Linked DNA regions of Homo sapiens. The protein of the gene in region 1 purifies or fractionates together with the protein of each later gene. This does not show direct contact. Each region holds a gene or a part of one and is shown on either strand. Other genes may lie near its edges.

Evidence for each region.
Region 2: the proteins of VWCE (region 1) and ZNF316 purify together in Homo sapiens (affinity purification with mass spectrometry; 2 studies listed by BioGRID and IntAct, with this or other methods). This does not show direct contact.

What each region holds. Positions count from the first base shown.
Region 1 is NC_000011.10:61,281,817-61,285,316, forward strand, and holds part of VWCE (von Willebrand factor C and EGF domain-containing protein precursor), read right to left. Parts: intron 1,090-3,500; coding exon 973-1,089; intron 721-972; exon of another isoform or gene 662-720; intron 99-661; coding exon 1-98.
Region 2 is NC_000007.14:6,654,318-6,656,548, forward strand, and holds part of ZNF316 (zinc finger protein 316), read left to right. Parts: coding exon 1-294; 3' UTR 295-2,231. UniProt on the Homo sapiens protein: May be involved in transcriptional regulation.

The DNA of each region.
Region 1 (3,500 bases):
GAAGCCAGGTCGGCATGTGCATAGGAAGCTGCCCACGGTGTTGTGGCAGGAATGGTGACAGACTCGCCTCTCCAATGGCCTCCGACACTCGTTTACATCTGCGGGAGAGCCTCGCTGCGGACAGCTGCTTTGTTTGGGCTACGGAGCCCTTCTTCCGCCCATCCCTTAGCTCAAAACACTTGGGGAGTTTCTCTGCCATGTTCTTACAGGGTCCATGCCTGCCCCGAGGTGCGGGATGTGACTCAGACAGCTGGGAGCGGGGCTGAAATCTAGTGCTTGTCTTGTTAATAGGTTCACACATCGAGCAGGTATTTAATGCGAGTATCAGAGACTCAGCCCCAGCACTATGCAGCGGTAATTAATTGCTGCGTGGTAGGGGTAAGCCCCAATGAGAAGCTCATCTCCAAACCTTCCACCCTCCCGTTTTTCTTTCCGAAAAAAGTCTCAAAACTCACTGGGCTGCTGAAGGAAGGCTTCGGGACAAATACCTAACTCCGCTAGAACAAGGTCTTTTTTCAGGCCCATGGGACCCCACCTTAAACCCATGAGCCAAGCTCAAACCAAACATGCCAATCCCTTTCTGGAAATTTCTGCTAATGGGCTGAGAAAACAGGGTCTCCTTCTAAACCAGAGGAACCAAGACATAACGTGCTTTATTTACCAAGGGGAGCAAAGGCAGCCAAGAAAATGGGTGAGCAGAGAGGAATCCTTGGGGTGTATCTGGGAGAGGAGCGGAAGAGAAACATAACAGGATGAAAGTGGCAAATGGCCAGGAAAAGTCCAAGACAGGGTCTTCATGCAGAGCCACACCAACCCCAGGGACAGGCAGGCTCTGAGCCAAAGGCTCAAGCCCCTTCAAGCTCCAGAGGACCAGAAAGTCTAATTGTTAACCTTCCCGGGTCCCTGGGCTCCCTGTCCATCCTCCTGATTGGCAGCCTAAGTGTGCAGACCACAGGGTCCTCCCCGCCTTACCTACACAGGAGTGCCGGTTGCCATGAAGGTGGAAGCCAGTTCGACAGGAACACTTGTAGCTGCCAATGCTGTTTTTACATCTCTGCTGACAGGGAGTCCCTAGGCATTCGTCAGTGTCTGGCAGGAAAAGGGACAAGACTGGGGTTCATTTCCCCAACAGAACCTTGGAAATATATGGTCCCCTCTTCCTCCCTCATCTCCATCTCCTATACACACAGGGCTGTGGGGAACCACCTTAGCTGCCCCTCTTCTGCACTGCCCACATCCAGTCCTAAATACTCTCTGGACCAGCCCACGTCTCTCATCCTCACTGCTACCCCTTAGCCCGGCCACATTCATCTCTAGTCTGGAGAATAGCCAGAGCCTCCAGTGTGTCTATCTCTACCTAGGTTCCTTCAAGCCATCCTCTGCACAGCCTCCAGGATGTTCTGACCAAAGGGCATTTCTAATCAGGGCCCTTCTGCTCAAAACCTCTCCGCTGCTCCCACAGGCCACAGACCTCATCTTAGGGTAAGACAGCAATGCCGCCCCATAGCTCACGATGCCTTTGAACACAGTCCTGGTTGCCTTGCCCACCTCCTTCCTTGCCCCTGACCTTCACTCTGGCTTAAATTCTTTTTTGTTGTTGTTGTTGTTTTTTGAGACAGAGTTTTGCTCTTTTTGCCCAGGCTGGAGTACAATGGCGCGATCTCAGCTCACTGCGGTCTCCATCTCCTGGGTTCAAGCAGTTCTCCTGCCTCAGCCTCCCAAGTAGTTGGGATTACAGGCATGCACCACCATGCCTGGGTAATTCTGTATTTTTAGTAGAGATGGGGTTTCACCATGTTGGTCAGGCTGGTCTCAAACTCCTGACCTCAGGCGATCCACCTGCCTTGGCCTCCATTACAGGCGTGAGCCACTGCACCTGGCCACTGGCTTAAATTCTTGCCATCTTCCAAATGCACCACGCTCTTTTGGTGCTCCACTTTTGCCCATGTTCTCTGTCTGCCTCGAATGCCTTTCCCTCTTGTCTGGCTGGAAAACTCCTACTCATACTTCAAAACTCAGCTTCAGTGGAACCTCCTCTGTAAAAGTTCCCTAGTGCTGTTTGAAATTGTGAAAAACTGGAAATAATCTCCATGTTCATCAATAAGAGAAGAGTTAGTAAACTATGAAATATTTGCACTGCAGAGTCAGCAGTTAAAAGGAACAAGGCAAGTCTATTTACCCTGATGTGGAAACATCTTCAAGACCAACGTTGGGCAGGGGTAAGGGGAACAAGCAAAGGAATGACTAGGTTCAAATCCCAACTCTGGCTGGGTGCAGTGGCTCATGCCTGGAATCCCAGCCCTTTGGGGGCCAAAGCGGGAAGGATAGCTTAAGGCCAGGAATTTGAGACCAGCCTGGGCAACACAGCAAGACCTCATCTCTACAAAAAAAAAACAAAGAAAGAAAGAAGAAAAAAACCTTAGCTCTAATGGGATCTTAAGCAAGTAACAATTTCCTTAAGCCTCAGTGTTCCTTTCAATAAAATGGAGATAGATAATACCAACTTCACTGGGTAATTGTGAGGGCGAAAGGAGAAAATGCGTGTAAAGTGCTTAGCCCAGGACCCAGGACCTGAGAGTTCAGCAACTATCCTATCTCTGTAAGTGCCCATGTACGTACGTACACATCATGGGGAGGGGCAAGGAGGGCACACAGCAGACCAATGCCTGAGTGCTATGGACTAAACTCTGTCCCCTCAAAAATCGTGTTGAAGCCCTAACCGCCAATGTAATGGCATTTGGAAGATATGCAGGTAAGATAAGTAGATAAGAAGATAATTAGGGTTACATGAGGTCATGAGGGTGTGCCCTCTTGATGGGATTAGTGTCCTTTTAAGAAGAGACATGAGAGGCCTAGCTGGGTGGCTCACGCCTGTAATCCCAGCACTTCAGGAGGCCAAGGCGGGCAGATCATTTGAGGTCAGGAGTTCAAGACCAGCCTGGCCAACATGGTGAAACCTCATCTCTACTAAAAATACAAAAATTAGCCAGTCGTGGTGGCGCACACCTGTAACCCTAGCTACTTGGGAGGGTTGGAGGATCGCTTGAACCCAGGAGGCGGAGGTTGCAGTGAACTGAGATTGCAACAATGCACTCCTGGGCAACAGAGGGAGTGTCCTCTGTCCTCCTCCATGTCAAAAAAAAAAAAGAAGAAGAAGAGATACCAGAGAGCTCTCTCTCCAAGTGAGGACACAGCAAGAAGACTGCTTTCTGAAAGCCAGGAAGAGCCCTCACCAGAAACTGAATTAGCCAGTGCCTTAATCTTGGACTTTGCAGCCTCCAGAACTATGAGAATCAATGTCAGTGGTAGAAGCCCCCAGCCTGTGGAATTTTATCATGGCCGCCCAAGCAGACTAAGACGCGCAGGCTATTCTCCAGGGAGAGCAGAGGGCAGCAGTGGGAAAGAGGGCCTGGGCTAGCACCATGGCTTTTAAATTTTTTCTCATAATTTATGAAAATGTCAAACATAAAGAAAATAATAATGTAAGATTCAGGGGGAGG
Region 2 (2,231 bases), on another chromosome or scaffold:
ACACATACGGGCGAGCGGCCCTACGCCTGCGCCAACTGCGGCCGCCGCTTCTCGCAGAGCTCGCACTTGCTCACCCACATGAAGACGCACCGCGGAGCCACCGCAGCGCCGGGCTCGGGTTCGGCCCCAGCCCCCGCGCCCAAGCCCGAGGCGGCCGCCAAGGGGCCGTCCAGTGCCGGCCCCGGTGAGCGCGGCAGCGCCCTGCTGGAGTTCGCGGGCGGCACAAGCTTCGGCTCCGAGCACCAGGCCGCGTTCGCCGGGCCCTCGGGCGCCTACCGGGAGGGCGTCCTGTGAGGGGCCCGGGGCCGACAGCAGCGCAGCCTGCAGGGCCACCGGCCCCTCCCTTGGACGGCCGGCCCCCCGCTCCTCGGGCCCCGGGAGGCTGAGGGTCCCAGTCCTGGGTGCGGTGCCTTCCCTCAGCCCTCGCCCTGCGGCCCCGGGTCTCATGCCCGCCGGGTCCGTGTGCTCAGCCGGAGACGTGGGGGAGCTCTGGGGAGAAGAGCAGCGCGGAGGCAGCGAGGCCAGGACGTCACCCCCACGGAGACTGCGATATCCCCTGGGTGGGCCCGGGCTGTGAAGCAGGGCGGTAGTTGGCGGGCGATGCTATTTATTTCACTCGGATTCCGACTTGGGTGGTCTGGGGAGCAAGGGATTTGTGTGTTTGCAACCGGGTGTGGCGGCGAGGGAGGGGCCCGGCCACCCAGGTGGGCCAGCGGGATGCCTGGGAGGCCGGTGGGTTTGGCTGACCACTTCTTCCCATTCCTCAGTGAGAGACTTGGGCCCTCCCGGTCATCCGAGTCTGTCCCGAAGGTTTAACTGCGCGCGGCGAGGGGAGGCCTTGTAGGTTTCCAAAGGGCGGAGCTCCAGTGGGAAAACTTGAAACTTGTCGTCTGCGGATATTTATTTCCACTTCTTGTATGGCCTGAAGAATCTAGGAGGAGAAAAAGCCAGATACCAAACTTACGGCCAGGCAGACGGGTCGCGGGTGTTGACAGGGTCCTGAGGGAGTTTGAAGCCTTATTCTCGAGCCGCCTCCTCTTCTCTACCCACACTTGCACCGAGGTCACCCCGGCACCCTCCGCACCGGTTCGGTTTTGGTCTCTGCTTGTCCTCTCAGTCCTTGGTACTTTCGTCTCCCTCAGCCGGAGGTGGCAAACTCAGACATCTACGGGCGCCCGAGGCCCTCGCAGCCCTGAGCCCCAGCTTTCACTTCCCTGGGCTGCCCCTCTCCGGGAGCAGGCAGACGCCCCGTTCTCGGAGCCCAGCGCTCACTTAGAGCGACTGAGGTTGGTCGAAGGATCTTTCCCCACATCCCATAATCAGGGCCCTAGGACACTCGCAGGTCCCTTTAACTCTGCTTCTGTCATTACACTAGAACAAGTAGTGTTTCTGTTTAGAGTCCCATTTCACAAATTGGTTAGTGGAGGCACCCGTGGCCTGGCAGCTTGCACAGTGGCTGTCCACCTCGGGGGGGTGTGGACCTGAGCCGTGGCTCAGTGACAAACCAGGCACCCAACTATGCAAGGCCCCTGCCTGGTGGGCATCCTACCCTCTGGACTGGGCCCATGGAAGCCACTGGGCGGGCAGCTGGGGTGTAGTTCATGTGAAGCCCCATTCCCCTCACGCTTTTGGGGCCACTGTGAATGGGGCCAGGAAACGGATTTTTGGTGCAGCTGCATTCCCTAATAGACCTAGTTCCCTCCACGTTAGTGTAGACATGGCCTTGGGGGCTGAGCGCAGCAGCCAGGCTGCCAGGGCTGGGGGCGGGTAGGAGGCACGGTAGTTGGTGGGTGGGAAGAGGGCCTGGGTGGTGGCGGTCAGTTAGCCTGGCTGGGTGAGGTTGGTGAGGTTGCGGGGCGGGGTGGTGAGGAGAGCAGGGGTCCCAGGGAGGCATTGGGGTGCTGGGTAATGACCTCGGCCCTGGGTTTCTCCTCTCCCTGCGGGACAGGAGCCTCAGAAAGGGCCAAGGGCAAGGTGGGCTTGGGGGGCTCTGGGAATCTCAGCTCTAGCCCTGTATGGCCAGGATCTGCTGTCTCCGTCCCTCCTGGGCCCCAGCAGCTGTCCTGCAGCTGTCAGCAGGAGGGCCTGGCTTTAATAAAGAGTGGACAAACTGAACTTCTGACTGGACTCCATGCTGTCGCCACTCCTGGGAACCCGTCGGGGAGGCTCTGCGCGGCCTCAGGTCCAACTTGTTTCTGCAAACATTTTTTAAAAGATTTTCTCTTTTAAGA